Regions from separate parts of the Homo sapiens genome. Here region 2 is linked to region 1. The links come from fine-mapping of genetic effects on gene expression. A gene starts in region 1. The other region holds a variant in brackets. All regions are shown on one strand. Distances are from middle to middle.

Region 1 (8,343 bases):
AGTGTGTTAGTGTATTAACAGCTCTATTGAGGTGTAACTAACATATACTAAACTGCAATAAACTGAATCAATTTAAACTGATAAGTTTTAAGATAGATACATGCCTGAAAAACCTCACCACAAGCAAAACAATTAACATTTCCACCTCTCATGCTCCTTTGCAATCCCTCCCTTTTTTCATTCCTCTTCACTATCTATCCTCAGACAGCCACTTATTTTCCTTCTATCAGTGATGATTAGTTTCCACTTTCTAGAGCCTTAAATAAGTAGAATCATACAGTATCTATTCTTTTTTTTTCTGGCTTCTGACATTCAGTTTGATTATTTTGAATTTCATCCATGTTATTGCTTGTATCAGTAGTTCACTTCTTTTTACTGCTGAGTTGGATTTCATTGTACAGTTATGCCATAATTTATTTATCCATTCATCTGTTTATGGAAATTTGGGTTGTTTTCAGTTTTTGGCTATTAAAAATAAAGCTGCTTATGAGAATCCCCATTGTGGCACATCTTCACTAACACTTGTGGTGGTTAACTCTTTTTCATCTTAGCCATCTTTATCAGTGTGTAGCGATATCTCATTGTGGTTTTATTTTCATTTCCATAATTACTAATTATTTTGACCATACTTTTATGTTCTTTCTTTGTCTCTTACTTGGTTATGTGTGTTTTCAAATCTTTTGCCTATTTTGGGGGGGTTTATTGTCTTCCAATTATTGAGTTTTGAGAGTTCTGTATATATTTGCAAACAAGTTCTTTATTAGTTATGCGATTTTTAAATATTTTCTTCTACTATATAGCTTCTTTTCACTCACTTGAAAGTGTCTTTTGAAGGCCAGAAGTAGCTAAGAAATGCTTGCTTAGCTATCTAAGAGGGCTTCTTAGATGAAATACCTAAGAAATCTCTACCTAACCCAAGGTCACAAAGAGTTTTATTCTGTGTTTTCTTTGAGGGAGAGGAGTGACCTCTGAAAACTCAAGGTGCTGAAAATAAAAAAGAATTTATTTTGTAGCCAGTCTGTTACTGCCATGAAATATATTTCAAGGTTTTAGCCTCCCAGATGGTGCTCTTTGGGATGAAAACAAATTGAAGCATTTGCCCAAGGAAAACAAAATTGACATGTTCGAATAATTTTAAAATTTCTTCTAAAGATTAGAATATATTAATTCAGTTGTTATCTTGGACTCTGACTTCTTCTGTACCAGTGGATAACTGAAAGTTGAATATACATACTTCAGTAATGTAACTATCACTGAATGTTTTGTTTTGGGTTAAAATTTTGGGAATAGAAAACTCATACTAGATTTAATTCATTCATCCAACATATTTATGGATACTTACTATGCCAAGCACTGTACTAGGGGCTTTTATCCATTTTCATCTATAAATTTTATTATTTGATCTTTCTAATAACTGTGTGCTTTTGGCAAAAGAAACTTCATTTTTAAAGGTTAAAAGTTGTCAAATTCTCACTGTTAGTGAGAGAGAAGCCTCTGAGAATCTATAATCTAGTTAAATAGTCAAGTACCTTGACAACAACAATACCCTAAGATAAATACCAACATAGACATACGTTAGCCTATGTGACTCCCAGAGGGGATCTTTGGGAAGGCTTTTAAAGAATGAATAGAATTTTGACAGGTAAGTACTGGGCTGTGATAAGGGGAGGAGGTAGAATAGAAAAAGTAGACGGGAAATTTTTCACAGAGGCACATTGGCCAGAGAATGCCTGGTGTGGTCATGGAACAGCAGGTTGCTGTGATTTTTGGTAAGGGGATAGGATGGTAGGAGATGTCAGCATGTGACAGGTTTAGGGGCAAGAAGAGATATACTGTAGCAGGCAACGGGGAGTCAGCAAAAGATTTAGACCAGGAGAATGGCTACATCAGAACTGTGTTTTAAGAAATATTTTTGCCATCCTTAAATAATCTATGGCAGTCTGGGTAGAAGGAGGAAAGAGATTGGAGGCAGGGAGGCTGGGGGAGGCCATCTTGATAATGCTGGCAGGACGTGGGCAGGACTGGGAACTGACCAGGGGAAAGGGAGAATTTCACTTTTCATACAAAATGTTCTCTCCTAAGCTCTTTTTGTACTCTTTCCTTGGGAAATAACGTAGAATCAGCTAACTGCTTGATTTGAAAGGATTTTTTATTTTTCGACTGATTGGCTTGTTCTTTTTTGGCAACTAAAAAGGGCCTCTTTTTGTGCAGCAGAAAGATATAACCCAAGACGCTCCAGAAAGTCAACTGAGTTATGATGTAAAGAATGGATGTGAGGGAGGCCAATTACTCCTCACCCAGGTACTGGAAAATAAGGAATGGACAAAGAACACTACTGATTAGTAGGAGATCTGGAAAGGATGGGATCAATCGAATTTGATTGGATGGGGTGCTTAATGATGACTCCCCAATTTAAAATCAAGTGGCTAGAAAAATGGTGGTCTTTCTGTGGGAAATAATGATTTAGGAAGAGAGATAGTATGCTTATTTTAAATAGGTTGAATTGGAAGACGTTCCAAAGATAGTCCAAACAATAGGACTTTCATGAGGAAATATCCAAAAGCTGCTCAAAGGCCAGAGATAGTATTCATAAAAGAAGAAAGGGCTGAAAATAATAGTCAAAAGTTGTCCACATGGAGATAAAGCCATGTGTGGTTGTCTATGCTGAGGGATAACATGGTGACAAATGGATGGTGACTAAGGGCAGACTTTTGAGGAAATACAGCAGGAGAAGAAGACCCATCCAGAGAGACAGAAGGGACATAAGGCAAGAGACGTAGAATATGTAGAACTTCAGGGGTAAATGGCAGACAGACAGAACTGGTAAAATGCAGCAGACCTGTCAATGAGGATGTGGATGCAGGGGCTGTGTTTGGTGACAAAGGATCAATTCTTCTGGGCAGGCTTTCCACCTTCTCCCTCCTGCCCCACTGCAGGCCATCTGGGACTTTACTTTCTCTCTTGCTGCTTAACCTGATCAGAGATAGCATTGATAATGGGTTAGCCACCAGTTTACCCTTTAGATCAAATGTTCTGTAAAAGCAAGGACCGTGGGGCATCATCCTGCAAGGTGATACAGGATAGGGATTCGGCGAAAAATTAACATGCTCGCGGACGGAGCAGTGTCAGGAGAGTCAAACTGTAAGGTATTATGGAACAGGAAGATGGTAGGAAATGAAAGAAGCACCTGATCAGAGAAGGCAGGCAGGGAGTTATTAGAAGATTCCATTGAGAGAGAAACAGAAAGAATACAATGTTTAATTATATGCTAAGAGAGAGTTGTCTATGTCCCTAAAGTGCAGTGAAAGCCAATGGAAAGGAGGGGATGACGATGCAAGAAGAGGCGATGGTTAACTACTGATGCAGTGAGTCTGAGAAGGGACTGGTAAACACAAAGTTGGGGTTAACCTCCGACTGAGGGCAGGGTATGAGAGAAGGTGCAGAGAAATGTAGAGGTGAGAGGTAGGCATAGTGAATGGAATGGACTATGAAAAAAGGAAGCCACGGCCTAATGGGAAACAAACAAGAAATCCCACCAACCTTGAAGTTCTGATACTGCCATTTTATCAATTGTGTGACCTGTGCCAAGTGACTTAACATTTTTTTAATGCCTCAACTTCCCTTTTGGTAAAAATGGGGGCGCTAACTTCCAACTCCAAAACCAGGTGCCATTGTCCCACTTACTTGCAAGTGCCTTCTTAGATGTTTCTGTTTTTGTTTTAACGTTTCCCTTTCTGGGCAGAGGAGCTTGAAGATGGGCTGGATCTTATTAGCAAAGCAGGAGGGTGGGTCATCTGTGTACGGAGACAGTGATGTCATAAGCCTGAGAGATCACGAAGGGGTTGTAGCAGTGCTGGGCATAGGCTAGAGAAATTAACACAACGTGAATAAAGATTTGCAGGCACCAGTGAGAACCCAAGGGAGATTAGAGAGCAGGGAGGCCTGATAGAAGAGGAATCAGGCCCCTAGCTGAAAAAGTGTTGGGGAGGTGTGCTACAAACTTCGTTTTATTTTTATTTATTTTTTGAGACAGGATCTCGCTCTGTTACCCAGGCTGGAGTGTAGCCGCGTGATCTTGGCTCATTGCAGCCTCGACCTCCCAGGCTCAAGCGATCCTCCCACCTCAGCCTCTGGAGTAGCTGGGACCACAGGCCCGCGTCACCATGCCCGACTAATTTTTGTACATTTAGTAGAGACGCGTTTTCGCTATGTTGCCCAGGCTGGTCTCGAACTCCTGGGCTCAAAAGATCCTCCCGCCTCGGCCTCCCAAAGTGCTGGGATTATAGGCATTAGCCACTGCGCCCGGCACAAGCTTCGTGTCTGAACCTGGCTCACCGGTGGGCATTGAGCAGAGCCCACCCTGGAATCCACTCATCTCGGGAGGTTTGGGGATGGGCTTCAGCGAGTTCGGAGGCCCCGGAAATCGCCCAGATGCATTAATTTCCAGAAGGCTTGCAAGGGGGTCTCAACACAAAGATTAGGAAGCTGTAACCAGAGTTTGGTAACCCCACCGGGAACGCGAGCCGCCTCCCAGCCTTGCGCCCTGACGCGCTCTAGCAGTGCTGCAGAAACTTCGAGAACTTCGTTTTCATCTCTTCCCCAACGCACGACCTCGGGCTTTTTCTTTTTGTAAACTGCTGAGTGTGGAGAGGCCCCGCCCTTCCGCGCCCAGCCGCGGGGCCGCCCCTGCCTCCTCCCCGGTACTCCTTCCTGGACCGCGCTGGAAGCCCTGGCGGCGGCGGCCCATGGGGCCCTTGGCGCTGCCCGCCTGGCTGCAGCCCAGGTAGGGCGCTCGGCCGAATCCCGAGGGGAGGGGGCGCGGGTGGAGGGCCTGGAGGCGGGAGCTCCCCTCTGCGGCGGGCGGGCGGGCGGCACCCCCCGCCCGCCAGCAAGGCGCAGCGCTACCGTGCCCAGGCACCCCTTGGAGCTCATGCAGGTATTTGCTAACTTACCCCTCTTGACCACCCTAGGAAGCAGGCTCTGTTATTTTCTCCATTTTACAGTTGAATGGGAAGGACAGGCTGCATGGCTACCCCTGCCCTTGTGAGCCCTCTGCCAGTACTTCCCTCCCCCCAGGAGCCTTCTCTTGACTTTCTCAGACGCAGAGTTGCGGGGTGATTTTTAGATGTAACAGCCGTGGAAACACCTATCACACGTATAGATTTCAGGGCCTAGTTCCGGCGGGGAACAGATTCAGTCATATAGCGGTAGGGCCTGGGGGTGTATATGTTTAACCCACAAGCCAGGTAATTCTGATACAAGCTGAAGGAGGATTTCCTCTTCCCAAACCCTTTAGCAGTTCCTGCCTTTATAGGGGAGGATGTCCCCAAATAAAAATCATTCTGCCTCCCAGCTTATTTTCCTTGTTTCTAGGAGGTTTCACATCTTCAAGGAGGAGTAAATCTTGACCACACTGGCAGGGCCACTCCCGTCACTCTTCTGAACTCCCAGGGAACATTTCAAACAGTGCTTTTCCTAACTCCCTCAAACCATCTATCTGTCAATCTTCTCTTAGTCATCTCCCCAGCAACTCACAACACATTGTTAAACCCAGCTTGACTTCCCTCTTCTGGTATGAGCAACTAAACTGCTTTCGATATGTATCTGATGAAGGAAACTATCTACCCTTGCAAAATGTTAATAGGCAGTGGCAAGATGTTAATACTAACCTCAATCACATAATGTGTTCAAAAGTCAGGTGTGTCCAATTACTGAATTACCCAACATTTGGATTACTCCCATCCCTACCCCCCTTCAGAACTAAAACACTGTGTCTCAAGTTCTGCACTTAGCAAGCTGAGCTACTGGAACACATAGTGACATGTCAACCACTCTGCACACATGGATTTTTTGTTGTTGTTGTTGTTTTGTTTTTTATTTTTTATTTATTTTTGAGAACAGAGTTTTGATCTGTCGCCCAGGCTGGAGTGCAGTGGCGCTGTCTCGGTTCACTGCAGCCTCTACCTCCCAGGTTCAAGTGATTGTCCTGCCTCAGCCTCCTGAGCAGCTAGGTAGCTGGGATTACAGGCATACGTTACCACATCCGGCTTTTTTTTTTTTTTTTTTGTAAGTTGCCATGTTGGCCAGGCTGGTCTTGAACTTCTGGCCTCAAGTGATCCAACCCGCCTTGGCCTCCCAAAGTGCTGGGATTACATGCCTGAGCCACCGCGCCCAGCCTGTTTTGTTTTTTTAAAGAATATTCAAAGCCACCTTCGCAGTGGTTTCTTTTATTCCTTGGTGAGCAGCAAGGTTAGAACTTTATCAAAGATGAAAGCAGATTTTGAAAAAGCACTATATTTGGTTTTAAGCAAACTCACTATACAGATGGTCCATGACTCACAATTTTTTAAACTTTGTGATGGTGTGAAAATGATATGTATTCATTAGAAACCGTACTTCAAATTTTGGATTTTAATCTTTCCCCAGGCTAGCGATGTGCAGGTATGATATCCTTTCATGATGCTGGGCCGCGGCATCAGGCCGCAGCTCCCAGTCGGCCGCATGATCAGGAAGGTAAACAACCGGTACTCCACAGTGCACTGTGTTGCCAGATGATTCCACCCAACTGTAAGCTAATGTAGGTGTTCTGAGCAAGTTTAAGGTAGACTAGGCTAAGCTGTGATGTTCTGTAGATCAGTTGTATTACATGCATTTTCAACTTATGATATTTTCAGTTTATGATATTTTCAGCTGATGGGGTGTACCAGGACGTAACTTCATCATAAGTGAAGAAGCATCTGTATTTACTTTAGCGGGTAGTGTAGGTTATGGCTCCCTTCAAAATCTGATATGTACTTGGGGGTAACCAGATAAAAGACTGATATGAAACAGTTTTCTTTTGCTTTCTCAGGTTGGCCAGTACATTAAAGGGCATGTGTACAGTGATGAAAGGATGATTATAAAAGAAGTGTTTAATGGTATTTTCCTGTATTTATAGGTATAGGAAGAATGCGTATCTTTTCATCTATTACTTAATCCAGTTCTGTGGCCACTCTTGGATATTTACAAATATGACAGTCAGATTCTTTTCATTTGGAAAAGGTAAAACTCCGAAACAGTTTTTTTATTTTTAACTTTTAATCCTTGTTTTCACCTCATCCTGCTTATATTAAATTTCTACACACCTCAACCTTCTAATATCCTTCTCTAAAATTTGTATTTTTTAGCAACCATGTTTATTGCAAAACCTTCTTGGGGAAGGGGGAAGGTGGGATAAGTAAGGGAAAGGGATTTGGCTTCCCCCTGAGTTGGCAGTTTGCCTCAAAAAAGAGATGGATGGCACTGAGGTGGTATCATTTCATTGTTCCTTTTCCATTCTGTACCAAACCTTAGCAGATTTCTAGTGTTTTGAGGAAATCTCAGCATAACATTTTATGCAGAGAAATCAGGAATGAATCAAATTCTTCCAGTGTTTGTATTATTCCCCAGGTTTGAGGTAACTGGAGACTACTAGTAAGTGAAATACAAATTTTATATTCCCCAAGCCTCTATTTGGTCCCTTTAAGAAGTAATATGTAAATGACACACTTTGTAGAGGGCTAACCACTTATATAGGAGTCAGCATTAATGGTTTAAGTCATAAACTTCCTCTAGTTTCCTGAAAAGTAAAGTCACTGTTGGGTGACTAAATGACTATCAAAATAACATTCTCTTCATGTTCCATCCGCACGTGGGTAAGTGTCCTCACAGTTTACAACTGTTGAGTGACTTGACAATCTAAGCAACTGCTGGCTTCAGCTAAAAACAAATGTTTAGAATGTAGCTGGGAAAAGTCATGCTGTGCTCATCATTTCAGACGTGTGTATCATAAGGAAGTTATTCTACTTGCAGGGTCCCATAAGCTATTTTATGTTGCTTTTTCTTACTGAAAATCTACAGATATAGTCTCGCCTTTGTTAAGGACCTCCAAAGATATAACCTAAAGCTTGAGTTTCAACTACAAATGTTGAGAGTTTTCAAGCACAGGAAAACACAGGTGATGGGAAAACTTCTTTTATATTTTTATTAAAAAGCCATCACTTCTAGCCCTTTGAGGTTTGCTGAGGCAGTGCAGGCATATTACATGTCATTGGCAACACAAGCCATGGACTGGCTTATGCTGTCTCACCTTTCCAGTGAGAAAAGTTGCCTTAGTCATCAAGTATTTCTTTTTCTTTTCTTTCTTTTTTTTTCTTTTCTTTTTTCTTTTTTTTTTTTTTTTGAGATGGAGTTTCCCTCTTGTCGCCCAGGCTGGAGTGCAATGGTACGATGTCACCTCACTGCAACCTCTGTCTCCCAGGTTCAAGTGATTCTCCTGCCTCAGTTCCCTGAGTAGCTGGGATTACAGGTGCCCGCCACCATGCC
Region 2 (8,343 bases), 120 kb before region 1:
TATCATTTTAATTCTTTTCATTATACAGAAACTTGTTTATAACCCAGCATATGATCTATATTAGTGTCCAAAAGAAGTCTGTAGAAGAACACATTACATACAGTAACCATTTTACTATGTATAACAAAATATAGTCATTTCTGCTTTCTAATGAGTAGTGTGTTCATGGTATAATTTTTCCATCTTTAATTGTAACCTGTGTTTTTATATATAAAGTTGGATCTTTTTGTTTGAGTCTTATTTTTGTTTGCTTGGTTTTTGGTTTTTGTTTTGCTTTTGTCTTCCCAGTATAGCAATCTCTACTTTTTTAGTGGAAAGTTTAGACAATAAAAATTTAATCTAATTATGCATATGTTTGGGTGTATGTTTCCCATCTTGCTTATTTTATTTCTTCCTGTGGTCCTTGTTCCTTTCTTTCTTAATTTCTTGCCTTCTCCTAAATTAGTTTACCGTTTTAATAATTCCCTCATCTCCACTATCATTTTATCAGCTATTCTTCTAGTCTGTTTTGTTTTTAGTTTTTCTGTAGCGTTCATCACATATTTTAAATTATCATACACTACCTAGACATTGAGCTATTGTGCTGTATTTATTATGCTACATGTGTTTTGTATCACTGAATAAATTTTTTATTTTTATTAAACAATCTCATACATTATTTTGTGTAGCTCCAAGCTTTCATCTGATATAATTTCATCTCTGCTTGAAGAACATTTTAAAACAATATTTGTAGTATAGTTCTGGTAGTGATAATTCTCTCAATTTCCATTTCCCTGAAAAAGTCTTAATTTTACTTTCATTTTTGAAGTATATATTTGCTGGATATAACATTCCAGGTTAACAAGTTTGGTGTTATTTTTTCCTTTCAACTTTTAAACATGCCATTTAATTGGCATCTACCTTGCATGCTATTTAATGAGATGTTTGAAAGCATTCTTATCTTTCTTTATATGTAATGTGTTTTTTATTGGTAACTGCTTTTAAGATTTTTATCACTTGTTCTCAGAAATTTTATAATGATGTGTTTTGTTGTGGTTTTAAATATATATTCATGTTTATGCTGCCTGAAATTTATTGAGCTTCTTGAATTCATAAATTTTTTTGTTTTGTTTTAATCTAATTCAGAAAATCACCAGATATTATTTCTTCAAATATTTTCATTAACTCTCCTCTTCCTTCTTCTGGTACTCCAAGTATCAGAGGTTCATTTCATTCCATGCCTCCTTTTTGACAGATTCTACTGCTATGCCTTTAAAGTAACTGAGCTTTACCTCTACACTTAATTATCTCATTTAAAGTACTGCATTTTTCATCTCAAAAAGTTAATATTGATTTTTATTTATATCTTCTATTTCTTTTCTTCACTAAACCTCCAGGAGGAGAGTAGGTTAATTGTGAAACACAAGATTTTTGTTTGTTTGTTTTTTTGTTTGCATTAGGGTCACATTCCAGAGCTGTCTGTCATCCAATTTCTGTAAAATTATGCTGCATATATTTTTTTGTCAGTTATGTCATTGTTAAGGTAGTAGGATAAGCTCAAGCCTTCATAATAAATAGTTAATAAAACTTGTACTGTACAAATTCTCTTTCAAAAAATCTAATCTTATGTCTGTCCTGTATTCCATCAAGATCATATTTTCATCTATCACTTGACAGGAGACTTTGCATTGATTGTTAGTAATCACGATCACCCTAGAGCCATTTTATTGAATATCACTTTTACCATTTTAATATCAGATAAGTTCTTTCTCCTAAATTTAATTACCACTATAATATAATATTTTTTAGGAATCATGTGTTTTAATAATCTGGTTACCTAGGTTTCTTTTTATCACATTGTTTTTACTGTTATTTAAAAACATGCCTCAGCTGAGTGCAGTGGTTCACACCTATAATCTCAGCACTTTGAGAGGCCAAGGTAGGCAGATTGCTTGAGCCAGGAGTTTGAGACCAGCCTGGGCAACATGGAAAAAAACCCATCTCTACAAAAGAAAAAAAAAAATTAGCTGGGCATGGTGGCACATGTCCTTAGTAGCAGCTACTAGGGAGGCTGAAATAGGAGAATGGCTTGAGTCCAGGAGGTCGAGGCTGCAGTGAGCCATGAGTATGCCACTGCACTCCATCCAGCCTGGGGAACAGCGTGAGTCACTGTCTAAAAGAAAAAAAAAAACAAAAAAGAAATATTTATTATTCTCATTATTCTTCTCTATCACTTCCTTTCTTTCTGACTAAATTAAGACTTGATCTATAAGTAGAACAATGATTTCATAAAAACTGTTAACTCTTAGGGATTCACAAATAATCAATTTACAATGAACATAACAATCTGGGACAGTTCCTTTATAAGATGGAAAAGTGAAACTGGATCAGAATATTTCTCTTCCCCAGTATCAAAATTAAAGAGCAATATAGGGTGAAAATCAGTTTAAATATACAACAGCATCCATGAATGAAAGATGGCTAATGAGCAAGAGTGTATAATTTGGGGATTAAAATGTATCAGAATTTCAAACTATAAAATTTAAGTAATTACTTACGCAATATAGAATTCTGCATTGAATCTAGATTCAGCCAGGACACATCTGTGATCCTGGGTAATTCAATTAACCCCTCTGAGCCTCAGTTTTCACAAATGTAAAATAAGATGGAAATATTCCTGGAGTTTCTGTATCAGAAAAACTAAAACATTTTAAAGCACTTAGCAGAGTATCTTCCAGAGTGCTTAAGAGATGGTGACTATTTTCTTATTGATTCATACAGATCTATATAAGAATAGTCAACTCTCCTATTCCACTGTCTGTAAGCGGCTGCAAAATGCTGACAGTCTGAAAAAAGAGAAATGGGAGTTCTGAAGAAGACTCAAAATTAGATACCATTTGACACTGAAGATATGTGATTAATATTTAATCAAAAATTGATGGTTTGTAAGTATCTGGTGCATGGATTAGTCTCCTAAACTGAAGTTAAAAGTGTATATATATTATATATTATTATATTATGTATAACTTATTTCAATATATATTATAATAATATATATTTTAACAATATATTACAGAGTATATAATATATAGTACATAATACATATAATATATAGTAGGTAATACATAATATATACAGATATGTGTATATATGTGTGTATATAAATGCCTATACACATTTGTGTGCATACACACACACACACACACACACACACACATATATTTCATTTGCTAATTCTGTTGCCTGCCAGTTTTCTTTCCTCCCTCTTTCCCATTCTTTCATTCCCATATCATAATAGTTTCCTCCCTCTCCAGTGTAGAAATCTTCAGTGTGCCCTCTACATTCACTCCTCATTAACCTGCACTGCCCAGTCATATAGCTGCTTTCTCTTCCATTGTGGTTTCTGGCTGTCAATTTCCCCCTAAAGTGTACACAATTACCAATTGAAAGCAATAGTTGAGTGCAAATTTTTGGTTTTTCAGAAACTCACGTATGAGAGGCCTTTTTCTCTCCTGGTAAATATTTTTGGAATTAAGGGAATATTACTGTTACAATGATGTAATAGTAGTTGCAGCAAAAAGGAAACAGAGGGCAGGATCCATTTTACCCTGGGGGTTATCAAAAGATTTACAGAGGAAGAGAGCCACCTACTGATCGTGACTGACAGAAACAGCAGCCAAGTCTGGCGAGCAGCCTTCTCTTCTACACACAATCCTGTTCCCTGGCAGAAGATTTTTCTACAGAGCTAAAATGAGCTCTTTCCTGAAAAGAACTGACCTCAATTCTGAAAGTTCATTTCCTTAGCTTTGTGTCTTACAGAGGGGAAATAATGCCAGCTTCAAGCAGGACCCGTCCTCTTTTTTGGGCAATGGGCAGCTATGTGGAGACAGAAAGGGTCAGGATGTGTCCCTTGCCTCCAGCCTGCTCAGGCTTCCAGGGCCTCCTGACTCATCCCTCCCTCCACGTATTGAGCTACACTAGGAATAAGTACAGCCTGCCCATCTAGGTATAGAACTGCAAGGAAAATAAAGAAAAACCTCTTGTTTGATATTACATTAATTCTTTTTAAAAAAATACCTTGCTAATTTACAAATTCACTCCTATTAGATCATGTCACTTGACTTTGTAGTTAGGAGAAATTCTCATTGTTGTTTGAATTTTGACAGACTTGTATCCCGTCCAGTAGTAGTAAGATACAGCAAGACATAAGTGAAGGAATTTCAGAGAATACAATAATTGCCAAATGAAAGCATGTGGTCCATTGGGTAAAATTTAGGAAGCATAAGTTTGTGCAATGTTGTAATTGAAGAAGTTAATCAGGAAGTTTGTGTGAATTGCTCAGCTAGCAGGAAGGGGCTTCAATGGAGGAGGAATCTTCCAAATGTTTGCTCACATTACAAACCCAATGTTTAGATTTCTTCTTGCTAGATGGGAGAAGGGATGAGTTGGGAAACTCAAAGTTATAATATTTGACAATATTTTTATCCTTGCCTTTCTTTCTTTGTCCACTGTTTATAGGGGCTCAGTTCAGGAGCACGCAACAAAAAATATATTTCTGGATTCACCTGGGTCAGTCTCTGTCTCTCTCTCTCTCATTGTTTAACACCTTTCAAATATTATGACCCCTTCAATTCTTTGGTTATTTCTTTATGCTGCTTATTTCTCTAATGTAATTTTACTTTTTTGTTGTT[T/G]GTCATTTTATGTTCAGTGGGCAAACATTGCATGATTTCGCTCTGCATTCTCACCTTACCCTGAAAAACTCTGTAATTATATCCCAATTATATCCAGAGTTAAAAGAAAAAATTTACACAAATTACATTTTGCAGAGTTTAATTGAGCAAAAACTGATTTGCAAATGGGGCAGCTCTCAGAGCAGAACATGTTCAGAGAAACTTTGAGGCTGCCCCATGATTGGATTACATTTATCAACAGAAAAAGGAAAGTGATATACAGAAAAAAAGAAGTGAGGTATATAAAGAGCTAGATTGGTTATAGCTTGGCATTAGCCTTATTTGAACATGGTTTGAATAAGCAGCCACCTGTGATTGAATGAAGCACAAGTGTGATGATTGGCTGGGACTCAGCTATTCATTACAGAAGTATACTCCAAATTAGGCTTTCAGATTATTTAGGTACTAAGTTACATTACAATTCATTACGTAAGAACTACGTGAGTACAGAAGCTCACTCAGGCTAAACTTAGTTTAATAAACTTTTCTTTGTGGTCAGCCTCTCAATTTTGAGAAATTGACCATAACTTTGGGTGTTGTTGCCACTCTCTGTTATCATTCTAAATGGACGTCTTTGGTCTCAGTATGAAATTCACAAGTCTCAACAACACATTAGTTGAAACATTCTTTATGTTCTTGCTGATCTAGTTAAAGATCATTAAATGCTCAATGGATGGCTGCATACAAAACATTTAGGACTGGAGAGGATACAGTGCACCACGGGGAATATTATGATGACTATCAAGAGGATAATTTCAAAAACCCAAAGGGTACTCCTTAACAAAAGTCCTTGTGAAATAAACTGAACCAAATCAAACAAGTCAAAGTGCAGGCAATCTAGGCAGTTAAGCAGTATTTGAGTCTAATTGTTCATAGTCTGTCTTAAGGGTGTGATGGTGATTAAGAACTATAATTCACCATAAATAGGCCTGATTTAAAGAGGTACCCACTTTTGTTGATAGTCTGGTAACACAAGTCATAATAACCTGAAGACTCACTAGAAGAAATAGAAAGATTAGAAAACCTTGGAAAACCCAACCTTGCCATCCCCTATTTAGGCTGCCTGCAAACCAACTGTTAGTTGCTCCCATAAACACTTTATGTGGGCTGCGTGTGGTGGCTTTTATCTGTAATTCCAGCAATTTGGAAGACCAAGGTGGGAGGATTGCTTGAAACCCAGAGTTCAAGATCAGCTTGAGAAACAAAGTGAGATCATATTCCTATGTTTAAAAAATACAAAAAAAAAAGTTAGCCAGGTAGGGTGGCATGCACATCTAGTTCCAGCTACTTGGGAGGCTGAGGCATGAGGATTCCTCAAGCCCAGGAGTTTGAGGCTCCAGTGTACTATGATCATGCCACTGCACTCCAGTGTGGACAGCAGAGCAAGACCCTACCTCAAAACATATACAAATACATTATGTGTTTCTTTCTCTTACGAAATTTTCTTAATGTGTTTGGTGGCAAAGTCTAAGAAAACAGCAGTATTAGTCACCTTTCTAATCTTTCTATAGTAACAAACTCAGGGGAAAGATAGGTACAGTATTCAGTTTTTTTCAATACCAAACATAAGCCTCCAACTTGGGCAAAATGATCTAAAGCTACATGATGTTTCACTAAGTGTTTTGGTTGAAGATATATGTTCTTATCTATCCTTCAATGAGTGGCTTATACCCATGTGAAACCCTGGAAGGTTTGATTGTCTACAAAATTCAAGATTTTTCCCAAATTAAAGATTAGCTTCCAATTTTACATAATCAGTACCCAACTACCACCAAGAACAAGACCCCAGGAGTCCCACTAGGGAAACTAGCTTGTCTTTGTCTATTTGAAGGTTAGTTAATTAATTCTGGTTATTGACTATTTTGGCCTCTGATCATATGAGCTATTATGGGGACATTCAGGGAAAGTTAATCCAAAGGCAGGAGTGAGCCAAGCCAAATAGAATGATTCAAACTAGTGAGGAGGCAGAATGGAATAAGCAGATTCTCCACAGACCCAGCCTTCAGTGGTTGGAAAAAGGAAAACCTAGTTGTGTTTGAGCAAGGATCAGTTAAATTTGTTTACCCGTAAATCTTCATAGCTACTGACAAAGCCCAATGGAAATTTACTTTTTTTTGGTGGTTTATTTATAGCAATCTGTAAGGGTATATAACCACATTTGCTGAAAAAGGACTTTATTTGATTTAATCTGGTGACATTATACAAGCAATTATTTTTACCAACATGGGTAATTCCTAAGTCTCAAACATGCATTACCTGGAAGCAAAATATACTTTTGTTCAGGCAACACTTGAATATGCTTTCTATATTTGGTAATGATCAGATTATTAATTGGAAATGTTAGAGTGCTGTTTCTACTGAGTGTAAAAAATCAAGTAACAGTGATGTTCAGAGCTTCATGATTAGCTTTTCACTCTTCCTTTGAAGTGTCAGTGTGAGTCTCATTGAGAACACAGACATTGGCATTAGTAGATTTGTTTTCTGACTTTTTTTGGTAGTAGCCCACAAACCCAACAATTGCTCTGGATTTGTGTTACAGCATAAGCTTAAGTGAAAGCTTGCACTGATTATGGTCGCGTGGACGTTCCTGTACAACAAAAATGAGAAATGATTAGGACAGCAGGAAATTAGGTATGCAGTTCCAAGAATCTGAAGGAATTTTTTTGAGTTGTGAGATGTGGATGAAAGGTTTGAGGCCTTGAAGGTTTACTGCAGTGTAGGTGATAAGAAGAACTTGGTATCGTCCCTTAAAATGTAGTTCAAAGTCAATATTCCTCTGATGTCATTTCTAAAAGACACAGACTCTAGGTTCTAGGTCATGAAGGATTTGATTGTCCTAAGTTGGTGGATCACGAAAAACTTCTGAAAGACAGAGAGAGAACCAAGATGGCCAACTAGATACAGCCAGGAAGAACTTCTCTCACCAAGAAAGACCAGATCATCAAGTAGACTGGCACATTTTAAACAGATCTTTGGAAAGAAGGCATGAAGAGTGGACGGAGGGATGATGCAGACCCAGGGCTGAAAGGGGAGGGAGTTGGGAACCCTGCATGAGGTTGCCAAGCTCCAGGACTCATTCCTGACTTGGAGCAGCTTCTGGGGAAGGGGTGAGTAAAATAGGCATACAGTGAGCCATTCTTGTCACAGACCTCTGGAACCCTAGCTTCAGGAGACCCCATAACCCCCACAGACATTTGAGATGGCAGGGATAGCTACCTGGAGAGTTGAAAAAGACAGAACTCCAGCCTGCGTGGAGCCGAGGGTTTGTGTAGGAAGAGGTGCAATGGAGCACAGCTCATTCCCCAAGGCTCACATGCTCCTCTAGGTGGCTTTAGCCTTTTTTGGCTGCTGGACCTGAATGGAACAGGGCTATCTTTCCCATGGGATGGGCCAGTCCAATATGAGCACCCCACGCTCTGCCAGCCTATCCCAGGGACACTGCCTGTCTACACCCACTTTCAGCATGGCCTCTGCTGCCAAGCCGAGGCACTTGCCAGTGGGCACTGCCTTAGTTCTTTCACCAACAGACCCTACCTAATAGTCAGAGAACTGCAAGTGGGCCCCTGCTGGCAAGCACCCACCCACAGCCCTCCCCAACCAGGGCTCACTCACTGTAGACTTTCCCTGCTGCTTT

What was found.
Region 2: its variant is fine-mapped to the expression of HACD4 in CD4 T cells (BLUEPRINT, PIP 0.95).

The regions. Positions count from the first base shown.
Region 1 is chr9:21,027,993-21,036,335 of GRCh38, reverse strand. HACD4 (3-hydroxyacyl-CoA dehydratase 4) reads left to right here and starts at 4,696. Exons shown (of 7, transcript NM_001010915.5): 1 at 4,696-4,783; 2 at 6,938-7,041. The coding sequence starts at 4,746. LOC105375989 (a long non-coding RNA gene) reads right to left here and starts at 4,694. Exons shown (of 3, transcript XR_007061435.1): 1 at 4,336-4,694; 2 at 3,685-3,864; 3 at 2,417-2,973. RefSeq lists an enhancer at 4,357-4,917 and a silencer at 4,561-4,920.
Region 2 is chr9:21,149,450-21,157,792 of GRCh38, reverse strand. No RefSeq gene overlaps it. Among named protein-coding and RNA genes, the nearest start is that of IFNW1, 12 kb to the right of the region's middle. The variant T/G (reference allele first, on the strand shown) is at 4,671.